4 separate regions of the Homo sapiens genome follow, and all the other regions are reported to be linked to region 1. The links are microRNA targets in miRTarBase. Many come from high-throughput screens and were not tested one by one. Region 1 holds a microRNA gene; each other region holds the end of a gene's coding sequence.

Region 1 (3,000 bases):
AGGAAGGAAATCCTGTCCCATGCTACAATATGGATGAACCTTGAGGACAATATGTTAAGTGAAATAAGCCACTCATAAAAGGACAAATACTGTATGATTCTACTTCAAGGAGGTATCGATAAAACGAGAGAGTTCCCTGACCCCCCTCACAGGACGTGCAACAGAGGTATGGCTCATCTGTTCAGCCACTGTGTGCACTCAAATCCCTTATGGGAGGGGGAGCACACAGACGGGCAGGTGCAGGATCCAGGGCGAACACTTTTGGGCTCCAGCCACACAGTAGTGTCTAGGAGTGGGTGCCTGTGACTCCGGAAACTCCACTGGGCTTGCTACAGTGCTCTTTTAGCTCTGCCGTCCATAGATGGCTTAAGTGTTAACCAGCTCAGTGCCTTCTTGGTGCCTGGGTTCTTGTCCGGAATTCAGAAAGAATCAGGTCACACATGGGCTTGAAGGATGGTGAATGCGGGGATTTTATTGAGTGGTGGAGGTGGCTCTCAGTGGGATGGATGGGGAGGAAGGAGATGGAGTGGGAAGATGATCTTCCCCTGGAGTTTGGCCGTCCAGCAGCCAATCTCCTCTCCAATGGTCCCCAGCCGGACTCCTCTCCATGTTCAGATGCTCCTTCTCTTCTCTCCTTCTCTGCCACACCACTCTTCTGCTCATGGAGCCTGGGGTTTGGGGTTTATATAGTACAGGATAGGGGGCATGGCGGGCCAAAAGGCAACATTTGGGGGTGAAAACAGGAATGCTTGTTCTTATTTAGGGCCACAGGTTTCCAGGCTTGAGGGTCGGGCCTTTGCCAGAGAATCGCCCTCTTCTGCCCAGTATTTCCCGGTCTCCTGTCCATATCATCTAGAGTAGTCAAACCCAAAGAGGCAGAAAATAGAGGCCAGGCATGGTGGCTCATGCCTGTAATCCCAGCACTTTGGGAGACCAAGGGGGGCAGATCACTTGAGGTCAGGAGATCGAGACCAGGCTGGCCAACATGGTGAAACTCCATCTCTACTAAATATACAAAAATTAGCTGGGCGTGGTGGTGGACACCTGTAATCCCAGCTACTCAGGAGGCTGAGGCAGGAGAATCGCTTGAACCTGGAGGCAGAGGTTGCACTGAGCCAAGATCATGCCACTGCACTCCAATCTGGGCAACAAAGTGAGACTCTGTCTCAAAAAAAAGAAAGAAAGAAAATAGAATGGTGGTTGCCAGGGGCCAGGGGAAGGGGGAGTTGCTATTTAATGGGTATAGTTTCTAGTTTTGCAAGATGAGAAGAGTTCTGGAGACTGTACAACAATGCAATGTACTTAACACAATTGAACTGTACACTAGGAAATGGTTAAGATGGTACATTTTATGTTATGTATATTTTACCACAATTAAAAATTTTTAAAATAAAAAACAAAAATCATCCAGCCCCACTCTTGTCCATGATGCCCTCTTGCTCTGACTCACCCTTTATTCAAACCTCCCACTCCCACCCTTTGCAACCTGGCTTTTGTTCCTGTGACTTTACAGAACTGCTCTCTAAAATCCAGCAGGTCTGTCTTCAGCTGCCACCCTTCCCCTTCTGTGACCTCTGCTCCTCCAGGCACTTTTTGCCCCATCTACCTGTTCATCATCCTCAACTGGGGACCCCTGCCCAAGACTGTACCCTCTTTTCTTCTCCCACATTCGCTCCCCTGGAAGCTATCACCCACATAGCTGTCCACTCCCATTCTATACCTTCTGATCCTTATCTTTCCCCCGGTGCCATATCTCCTATTTCCAGGGGGCTAAAGGCAATCACCCATAGCATCTAATACATTGGTACAAAAGTAACTGCAGTTTTTGCCATTATTTTCGACGGCAAAAACCGCAATTACTTTTGCACCAACTTAATAAAAAAGTAAAACCACTACCTGCTGGGCTTCATTACCTCTTTTCTTGGTAGAATTGCCTTGCTTTTACACAAATGTCCTTTTTGCACCAGTGTCTTAATTTACTTCACTTTTAAGACTACCTGCAACCATGCCTTCTGCTAATTAGGCATTTTAAGGACCAGAGCCCTCTCGTATGTGCAAGAATTTGCTGATGCTTATCTAATTCAGTGCTTATCTAATTCAAAGATCCTAAGAGGCTGCCCAGGGTGCAGATATTTGTTGTATTTCGCTTGCAGAGTGCTGGCAAACACACAATATTTTAAAAATGTAAATAAGTTGCCAACATTTAAACGTCAGGAGATTTTACATAAAACTCCAGATTTCCAGATTTTCTTGAAAATTTAGAAGACTGGCAGCAGTGAATCCACAGTTCTTGATACAACTACCAGCTGTGGAAGTCACTTCTTTGATGGGGCACATGCTTGCTGATTTGCCACAGTCCCTACCACTCCTTACTGCCTCTCTAACTCTAAGGCTCAGTGTAGCTGCTGCTGATTGTTGAGCTTAAGCTGTGGCATTTCTCACACCTGCCTGTCTGCATGCCCTACTGGCCTAGATGCTCAGTGCAAAACTGACTCAGTGCTTGTGTCTATCCTTAAGCTAAACCCGCGGTTTCAGACTGGCTTTCAGAAGAGGCCTGGGGTAGGGTCTTCGCTTTCTGCACCCCCTGCTCTCCACCCACCAGACACCCCCGAAACCTGCAAAACCTTTTCTCAGGATTCTCAGTGAGGGCAGCATCCAGCTCTGGGAGCTGTTTGGGTTTTTCTGCCTCTTCTTTGATTAAGGTCCAGCCGTTTGGTACAGTGAGGTGGTCAAAGAGTCAGCTCAATGACTTTCTAACAAGTGACCTGGATGAGTGACTTAACTTTGCTAAGATTCCTTTCTTTTGTGCAAAATGGTGGCTGGGTCCTAGGGGTGATGAGAGCAATGTCTTAATTACTGGTGTGCAGAAAGCACCGAGTTGCAGCCAGCCACAGCTGGCTCCTTTATTTCTCCTTTACTTTCTCCTATATTTCTCCTTTATTTCTTACTTTTGAATTTTAGAATGTCATTTCTCCAATTTTTATAAAATATTTCATTTCT
Region 2 (3,000 bases), not on the chromosome of region 1:
GTAAAATACTAAATCTTTCAACTCTAAAGCACTTCTCAAATATCACTTTTAAAGTTAACCCCGAGCCTACTTTAGTTTCAATGTATTTTAATAAAAAATGGCAGAAAAATAAGAGTTGCATTCATCTTCATTATATCATTGAAATATTTTAACCAGTATGAAAGAAAACTCTCAAGTGAATTTACAAAATGCTAAAACAGTTCAAACCATATGAAAGAAATAAATATAAATATGGCCAAAAATAGTACAAATATTCATTTTTTTTCACGATAGTAGAATTTTCATATATACCTGTCAAGTAGTTATGAATATCACTGGTATTCAAAAACTAATTTAACAATGTCTTTATTTAATGACTATTCATGTTTTCAAACAAGTCTCTATGTACAGTAAATATACATAAAGTTCTAATAAACAACAGTGCAATGCTTCCCAAAGTCTTAAGCACTAGTATCAGATTCTTACAACACAGAAACCTTTTAGTTTGCCAAATGATTGGATTAAGGATACAGAATATGTCAAATACTCACTTGTGGCTTTCCAGGTCACCCTCTCCCGCCAAACAAACACAAAAGAAACAAACAAAAAAACCTAATCGCACAAATAACCACAATGTAAAAGGAAGTTCATAATCAGTATTTATATTTTTGAAATATATTTCTTAAAATACACTGCTAATTTCCTTCAGATTATACTCCAGTTGAGATTTATATAGAATCCTAAATGTGATTATTCTGTTCAGATCCATACAGTATTTCAAACCATTATTTTAAAAGATGAAATTTTGATTTTAAAAAAAGCCATAGTTTTACATCTTTCATGGGGAGAAATTTTAGACCCATCTTTCTTCTGGCCACCTCATCGTTTAAATTAAAAATAAAGTCACATCAATCACAGTGTTTTATCAAAAAGTTTTCTTCCAAAAACTTGCACTAAAAAGTTGTAATATTTGTATATAAGTGATTAACCATATTAAAACCCAGACATTTGTAAGAAGATATAAGTGAACTTTATTTATCTGTATCCTTAACCTGATACTACAGCCTTATAATAAGTATTACTTTTGGGAAGAGAAATAAAAGAGGTTTCTAATTTCCACAAAATAGTGCTAGTTAAAATGAAGAAAACTAGTTTATAATCCTTCAGAATAAAGCTTTCACTATTTGCAAGATACCATGAACATGTTAGAATTTTGCCCCCTAAATGTTTTAGATTTGATGAATATTGAGAAAGGGCTGGTTGGGAGGGTTTAAAAAGTACCTACTACTTTGCCTTTTTATTAACAAAATAATATATTTAATTTATGATTCTCCTACTAACTTCCACTTCATTTCACTGGCAAAATGGTCACTTTTTCAAATGACTTAGCAATAGAAAAACTATCCTTTCAGCTTCAAAATAGTTGTCACAATAATTTTGTAAGCCTCCACTGTAGAAGCAATTTAATTACCTCACAAACAAAAAGCACATTTGAAGTTTAGGTAACATTTCTTTCTCAAAAGATAAATGATTCAGAAGGAATATATGTAATTATGTAAAAAAACAAAAACAAAAAACCTCATGTTTCCAGTTTTAATCGTAAAAACAGAAATCTTAAAACACATACATACACTTAGGAGGAAAAAGGAGATGAATGCCAATGTCCATTAGCAAGTGTTACCGACTAATTCTATAATCTAGTTTTTTCTAGTTATATCCAAAGTTCCAAGTTTACTCTAAAATTTTCTTTCTGTACATTTACCCATTTGAACAACATCAACATTAAATAACTAAAACAAGATGGTCCATAAAATTCTTTCTATAGATTGTTGGCTGAAAGTCTCATTTCTAAAACTAGTACTTCAGTATTCCGAAATGCTCTCTCTGCGTCTTTTCATTTCTATTAGTATGTTTAGGACATAAAGCATTAAAATAAGGCTACTGCTAATGTACCAAAATCCATGTTCCAGAAAGGAAAAAAAAAAACTAATAATTATCATGTTTGAAAGGTATGTATTTTATTACTCTTGCAGGTATTTTGGACAAAAATATTGACCAGCTAATTATGCTCTTCCACACATCATGTTCACTGAGTTTACTACCACAGTTTTAGTGCAACAAAATATCTTTGAAAAGCCACTCTACAGTAATTATGGCAAGGCTCATTAATATGCAGAGGTAAAGATTTCATTTGTATAGAAACTTAGAAAATAATGTTTGAAAAGGAAAGCCATTCCATCAGGCTAAATATTTTTTGTATATTAAAAAATATATATAAATATTTCTTGAATTAGTTTTATAGTCAATTTTGATGCAGTGTCATTGAGTGGTGATAAATTTTGAGAGGTATATGTTAAACAAACATCATACTTGAGATTATAGTCTTAGGTAAACATTTAATACACAATGTCAAGGTAGTTCCCTTTTTAAAAAATTTTTGTACCAAGTAAGTCATACATTTAATGTTGACATTTCTTCTTACCTGTGTGCCTCACACCAATAAAGTACTCTGCATTAAAATTTAAATCTTGAGACAGTAGTACAGCATTGAAAAAAAATTGTAAAGCAGCTTAGATACACTGAACTCAGATTTTACATTTTCATTTGTCAGATTAGAATATAAAAAGTAAGCTTGAAAATCAACTTGAAAAAGCTTATTCTTCCTCAAGAAAAAGTATGAACAATCTGAAAATGATCAACTAGTGTGAATGAACATTGTACATAGTTAAGTCACATTCAGTGGTTGCTAAACATACCACTCCCTCCTGGAAATTACGGAACCATCTACATGTGAAACTAAGTCATCTTCGTTTTCATCATAATGTTCATCACTGACAAACTTCATTCCCATTTTTAGATCTTCATAATAATCCATTGGTCTTTCAAACCTATTGAGATTTTCTACATTGTTCCACTGAGTTTTTTCAGGCTCTTCTAAATAGTCTTTACGTATTAGATTGTTCACTGGATTTTTGTTTTCTTTTTTTACACTGTCTGGGTAAGAATCAAGCTCATCTTGTT
Region 3 (3,255 bases), not on the chromosome of region 1:
CCAACTTCTACCAGAACAACCGGCGCTACGGCGTGTCCCGCGACGACGCGCAGCTGAGCGGACTCCCCAGCGCGCTGCGCCACCCTGTCAACGAGTGCGCCCCCTACCAGCGCAGCGCGGCCGGCCTGCCCATCGCGCCCTGCGGCGCCATCGCCAACAGCCTCTTCAACGACTCCTTCTCGCTTTGGCACCAGCGCCAGCCCGGCGGGCCCTACGTCGAGGTGCCGCTCGACCGCTCCGGCATCGCCTGGTGGACCGACTACCACGTCAAGTTCCGCAACCCGCCGCTGGTCAACGGCAGCCTGGCGTTGGCCTTCCAGGGCACGGCGCCCCCGCCCAACTGGCGCCGGCCAGTCTACGAGCTCAGCCCCGACCCCAACAACACCGGCTTCATCAATCAGGACTTCGTGGTGTGGATGCGCACGGCGGCGCTGCCCACGTTCCGCAAACTGTACGCGCGCATCCGCCAGGGCAACTACTCGGCCGGGCTGCCGCGGGGCGCCTACCGCGTCAACATCACCTACAACTACCCGGTGCGCGCGTTCGGCGGCCACAAGCTCCTCATCTTCAGCAGCATCTCGTGGATGGGTGGCAAGAACCCCTTCCTGGGCATCGCCTACCTGGTCGTCGGCTCCCTCTGCATCCTCACCGGCTTTGTCATGCTGGTCGTCTACATTCGCTACCAGGACCAGGACGACGACGACGAGGAGTGATTCCGGCTTTCCAGGGATCCCTCCTGCTTCTTGCCAAAACTCTTGCAAGGTGCTTTTGGCATCTCCTCCTCGCCCGTCACCCAATTCCAACCTCGCCTAGCTTTTCCTCCCTTTGTGAATGAGGGGACCAGATAAGGGAATTACCCCCCTTGCTCTTGGGGGGCTGCTAGACTGTCTTGCCGCGGGGAGGGATGTTGACTGCAGAGTGAAACATCCTTGCAAACTCTTCCCACCTCCTTCACGACACTGAGTTGCCATGTGAGGTTCTTCAAGTCTGAGAGTGGAAGGGATCCCTATGGAGACTCCTATTAAACCCCTATTAGAGGAAGAGATTGAGAGACCTAGCAATGTGAAGTAACAAAGATCAGGCAGCTGCAAGTGACTCCTGAATCTTGAGTCCAGGGCTTTCGCCACTACAGTACAGTGGTTTTCTTTTCTTTGGTCGGGGAGAGTGGGCTGGAATGGAGAGTGAGGCCCACAAATTACCTGCAGAGACGTGGAGGCGTGAGGGAGAACATGCTTGTTAAATATGCAGGTAGATTAGGAGACACCAAACAGAGATTCAGACACAGTAAGGCTGGGATGAGATCCTCGAAGCTGTGTTTTAACAAACTCCACTGGAGAGTCCCATATTCCCTCAAATTTGGGAATCACGACCCTGAACCAGGTTGGGCCTGAAGCAGTCAACTGAATTCACTTTTTCGGATAGTAATTTGTTCCCAGGGGCAGTGACAACCATGATGTTCCAGGTTTGGTCTGGCACTCTGCCTTGAACGTAGGAAGCTCTTGATGATTTGTGGAATGAATTTTTAAAAAATTACTATCTGGGGAAAACTAGTTGGCATACAGAGTTGTAGGACAGGGTTTATGTGATTCATTTGATATTTTAGTATTTTGGTGTAAAAGCCAACAGGCAAACTTTGCCAGGTACTGTGTAGAAACTCGAAAATGTGAGGCCAGTTTGTACAGTTCAGAGGAAATGCTTTAACGTAGAATCAGATAGCTGGAAGAGATCTTCGAGGGAAAGTAAGTTCCCTAAAGTCACATCTATGTCTCCTAGCTCAGTGTTCTTTGTCATTGTGTGTGTGTGTGTGTGTGTGTGTGTGTGTGTGTGTGATTAGAAAGGGCTTCATTCATACCTTTTCCCTTGGACCTGGAAAAAAAATTTTTTTTATCTTTTCAAATGAAATCTATTGATTTCTAGTAATCATATTTGAATCAATGTTAAAGCATATATAGTCTTATATGTAAACTAGATTCTTAAGATTATTTGAACCTTTGAGATGAAGTTTACACTCAACTAAAATCATTCCATTGATTTTATTGATTAACATCAATCAGTATGTTTAAAGTTATTCTAAGAAGCAATAGTTTATTTTTAAAAACCTTGTATAGCAAAATAACTTAAAACCCTTTGTGATATCATCTTACCAGTTTATTTGGTAAAAACAAACAGTTATTTGGTATTTGTCAGAATTCTTCAGTGCCTGCTATTACAGCTATTTTCCAATTACTAACTTGATTATACTCACTCAAGGCAGTGCAAGATCTTGAAGTACTTTTTAGCAGTTAAGTAATATTGAATTGTATTGAATAGTTTACATAGTTTATTCTAGTCTTTGAAAATTACTGAACATGGACAATGTGCATGTCATTGACATCTGCCTTAGAACTTCTGGGACAATCCTGATTCGAGAGATTCTATCCCATTATTTACATATACCAAAAATACTTTGTTAATTTAATGTGTTGGCTTCCCAACTCCTGAACACGACACAATTTTATTATTAGATTTTGTATGGTGATTTTAGGCTATGAAAACATGATCATTATATGTATATAGATACATTTTTATTTGTTACAAATGTTTGAGCAGCTCACTAGCCCACCCCTCCTCTATTTTGGGTAAGAGAATTTACTACCTTTTTTAACTATGTAGTTGAGAGCAACATGTATTTTGTTATTTTTAGAATGGTCAGTATATTGCTATAAAATTTTAAATGAGACTATGAAAGTTAAAGTATTCTGATTCTGGTTAAATTAACGAATATGGTTCCAGGCCCTGTTCTCTGGGTTTTTGAGAGAGAATAAAGGTTATGTTTGTCTTACCTTTGTTATCGAGTTTGCTGAATTCTTTTGAACGATGATCTTAAAGGCACAAACACCACCAGCCACTTTGCTAATTTCTTAATAGCAGATTTACATTGCAGCAAGAAAACCATCTTTTATAGTAACATTCAGTTAAAATGAACTCAATTCATTGTTAACTTCCTAAAACAGAATTTGAACTTTATCAACCTCAACGTGTATATAAACTAGATAGTCCTCAATACTTTATCAACCTCAACATGTATATAAACTAGATAGTCCTCAAATACTGTTTGAATTTAATAAATGTCAATTTAAAAATTTTTGTAGTAGTCTTCTGCATTTTACTTCAATTATAAATTGCAATTATTTATTGGATATTTTGGACTTCAAAGCAGCAGAAACTTTAAAACTGAAATGGGAAACGTTTTCCTGCAATGATCCCTGTGCTGTA
Region 4 (3,255 bases), not on the chromosome of region 1:
AGATTGGCCTATTCTGGAAATTTCTTTTTTTCTTTTTCCTTTTTTTTTTTTTTTTTTGAGACGGAACCTCACTGTGTCATCCAGGCTGGAGTGCAGTGGCACGATCTTGGCTCACTGCAACCTCCACCTGCCAGGCTCAACCAATTCTTGTGCCTCAGCCAACCAAGTAGCTGGGATTACAGGTGCATGCCACTACACTCGGCTAATTTTTAGTAGAGACGGGGTTTCGCCATGTTGGCCAGGCTGGTCACGAACTCCTGGCCTCAAGTGATCTGCCCACCTTGGCATCCCAAAGTGCTGGGATTACAGGCATGAGCCACTGCACCCTGGCCCGATATTTCATATTTAAATGGAATCATTAGCAGTTTCTTGTGTCTGGCTTCTTTCACTTAGTCTAATGTTTTCAAGATTCATCCGTGTTGTAGCAGGTGTCAGTACTTTTTTTGATTGCCAAATAATATCCCAAATATGGTACATTTCCTTTGTCCGTTCACCAACTGGTGGACATTAGGCATCTTTTTTTGGCTTTAATATATCATCTGTAATGCTAGCTGTGATCTGTTCAACCCACCACATGCCAAGCACTCGACCTAATTTGTAATCCTTACAACAGCCCAGAGAGGCATGTCTATTTCTCCCACCATACTGACAAAGAAGTGGTCCATCCAAAGTCACAGAGCTGACAAAGTAAGTGACAGAGCTGAGATTTCCAGAAGGGTTTTTTTCCACTGCACCACACTGCACCTCCCCCACCCCCATGTGTTTTTCTGGCTCCTTCTAATTGGTTCTGAGGCCAAAACAAGAATCCACTCATTCAACGATCATTCATTCAACAAGAATTAGCTGGTACCATGTGGATGGTAAGCACAGATTAATTAGAGCCAGGCGAGAACAGACCTTGCCTCCTGGAGTATGCTGCCCAGGCAAGGGGTGGGAGGGTCATGATGTGGAGGCAAATGCCAGTCACCAGGAAGGGTGTGACCAAGTGCCAGGGACTCAGACATGCTGGAAAGCCTGAGTAATGATTTTTGGAGAAGATGACATTTTGAGCAGGATCCCAGCAGACCAGATGGATTTCACAAGCTGAGGCAGGGTGAGCCACCCACGCAGAGGAACTGGTGCACACACAGACCCAGAGACTGGGAATCTTGGTCCACAGGGGTGGGCTCTGCCCCGCTGTTGGTAGGAGGTAAAGAGGGAAGGGGAGAGGTTGAGATCACACTAGTGACAGCCTTGAATGCCAGGCTAGCATCTGGATTTTTGTCCTGTGGACAGTGGGGAGCTGCTGAAAGCTTTTGAGCAGGGTAACAAGACCAAATCCATCCATTAGATTTAAACGCTGCTAATAGACACCACTAGAACTTTGGTGTCCGCCCTCAGACCCAGGCTCCTGGCCCCTGGAAATTACACCCCGACATCCACAGGAAGAAGGAAGAGCTGGGTTTCAGACCCTTCTGCATCTTTATAGCCCCAGCACCCAGGACAGGGCCTGACACGTGGCAGGTGCTCAATAAACATTTGTTGAATGAATGGATGGATGAACCTGCCTGCCACCCCCTGCCTTCCACCCCCATCCCCCTGCCTCCCACTGTTCTTTCCTAGTCCCTCTCCTAGCAAGGTGGGAATGAGACAGCAGGTGTGCCCCAGATTCTCCCATCCCACCCACCTGCCATCTCTCCTCCTGCACCCTCAACTTCTCCCTCTTTGCCCCCGTCCTCCCCAAGGGTCATGAGTAAACACAGGAGCAAACCCTCATGTGCTCCTACCATGTGCTAGGCAGTTGCAATGACTTTACATTCTCACAATCGCCATCAGAGATAGAAATGATTAACTGCACTTTGCAGGTGGGGAACTAGTGACTCAGAGTGGTTAAGGGGCTTGCCCAGCTGCTGAGGGGCAGAATTGAAACTCAAACTAGGAATTTCTGATTCCATCCAGCGCTTCTAGCTGGGGGTGTGTAGTGAGGAGTAGGGTTCTGCTAAAGTTAGTTAAGGATGTGGAGAGGAAGAGGAAGCAGAGGGGTTCCTGGGGGAGGAAGTCTCTGGGCCCACATCCCAGGACCAGCGGGGTGAATCATAGTCAGGGTTCCTGCCCCACCTCTGGGTCCAGCTGCCACACTAGATGTGTAGCCAGATTCCCTACCCTCTCATGCCAGGGTAGGGCCTCCTCAGAAACATACACATACACACAAACACACACACACACACACACACAGCCCCGGCCCAAAGCCTAGAGAGATGGAAACAGTAGTTGCCTTAGACACAGAAGCTTTATTTTTCTATAAAATTATTCCCGAGAGAAATTTTCTTTTAAATGCCCAAAGTAAATAACTTATATCCCTTCTTGAAAACATCCCCAAAGATAGTCTGTCAGAAATCCTTCGGTCAAGCAGGTCAGCTGGCTCCCATGGCCCTTGGGGTGGCCTGACTCTGTCACTATTCCTAAAACCTTCTAGGACATCTGCTCCAGGAAGAACTTTCAACACCAAAATTCATCTCAATTTTACAGATGGGAAAAGTGATTCTGAGACCAGACCAGGGTCAGGCCAAGGTCATCCAGCATCAGTGGCTGGGCTGAGACTGGGCCCAGGGAACCCTGTCTGCTCCTCTTTTTCCCAGAGCTGTGAGTTCTCTAGCCAAGGCTGCACTCTTGAGGGAGAGCCAGGAAGCATAGCTGAGGCCATGACAACCTCACTCTTCACCTGAAAATTTAACCCGTGGCAGAGGATCCAGGCACATATAGGCTTCGGAGCCAAACAGGCCTAAAGAAATAGTTGACACACTTCCTCCCCCAGGTCATCTCCCCTGGAGTCAAGGGTCTGCCAAGGCTAAGTGCAAGGAGACACTTCTGTTTTGAAATAAAGAAGTTCCACATGCCTTTGCTTTGAGTCTGTGTGATATCAATCTGCTTGGCAACTGAGATTCTTTTCTTGCTGCGCAGACGTCCTTGTGTGTCTTTATTTTGTGTGTGTGTGTGTGTGTGTGTGTGTTTTGCTGGGATAGGCAAAGTCTTTTGGGACACGAGGTCCTCAAAGGTGGTGGAAGATGAACAAAACCATCCTCGGGGCTGAAAAGTGAGGGCTTCTGAACTATGCAATTGCAGAGGGACTTTCTTTCCAAGTACGGCATTCCCGATATACCAGAAAGGGGTGGAAGAATGTCAGAAGAATGGCAAGCATGAACATCACATTCACCTGCAGGGAGAGCAGAAGTGAGGTGAAATCCAGGAATTCTGAACAACAGAACTGTTGCTCAA

Evidence for each region. Region 1 holds the annotated microRNA hsa-miR-548am-5p (AAAAGUAAUUGCGGUUUUUGCC, at 1,843-1,864, opposite strand). A microRNA usually pairs through its seed, bases 2 to 8, with sites in the 3' UTR of a target mRNA and lowers its output. Matches are read on the target gene's strand: a 7mer-m8 pairs with bases 2 to 8, a 7mer-A1 pairs with bases 2 to 7 and ends in A, and an 8mer does both.
Region 2: the mRNA of NECTIN3 is a reported target of hsa-miR-548am-5p. Seed matches in the 3' UTR shown: 7mer-m8 at 2,603-2,609 and 7mer-A1 at 2,480-2,486.
Region 3: miRTarBase lists TMEM30B as a target of hsa-miR-548am-5p. Seed matches in the 3' UTR shown: 7mer-A1 at 3,044-3,050.
Region 4: the mRNA of SLC43A3 is a reported target of hsa-miR-548am-5p. Seed matches in the 3' UTR shown: 7mer-m8 at 2,320-2,326.

The regions. Positions count from the first base shown.
Region 1 is chrX:16,625,213-16,628,212 of GRCh38, forward strand. It overlaps MIR548AM (microRNA 548am), which reads right to left and starts at 1,873; the gene lies at 1,800-1,873. All of the region lies in intron 14 of CTPS2 (CTP synthase 2), which reads right to left.
Region 2 is chr3:111,133,941-111,136,940 of GRCh38, reverse strand. It overlaps NECTIN3 (nectin cell adhesion molecule 3), which reads right to left. Exons shown (of 6, transcript NM_015480.3): 6 at 1-3,000. The coding sequence ends at 2,726. Among named protein-coding and RNA genes, the nearest start is that of NECTIN3, 64 kb to the right of the region's middle.
Region 3 is chr14:61,277,550-61,280,804 of GRCh38, reverse strand. It overlaps TMEM30B (transmembrane protein 30B), which reads left to right. Exons shown (of 1, transcript NM_001017970.3): 1 at 1-3,255. The coding sequence ends at 713. It also overlaps a transcript of PRKCH not described here. Among named protein-coding and RNA genes, the nearest start is that of TMEM30B, 2.2 kb to the left of the region's middle. RefSeq lists an enhancer at 42-1,005.
Region 4 is chr11:57,404,704-57,407,958 of GRCh38, forward strand. SLC43A3 (solute carrier family 43 member 3) reads right to left here. Exons shown (of 14, transcript NM_199329.3): 14 at 2,251-3,193. The coding sequence ends at 3,089. Among named protein-coding and RNA genes, the nearest start is that of PRG2, 16 kb to the left of the region's middle.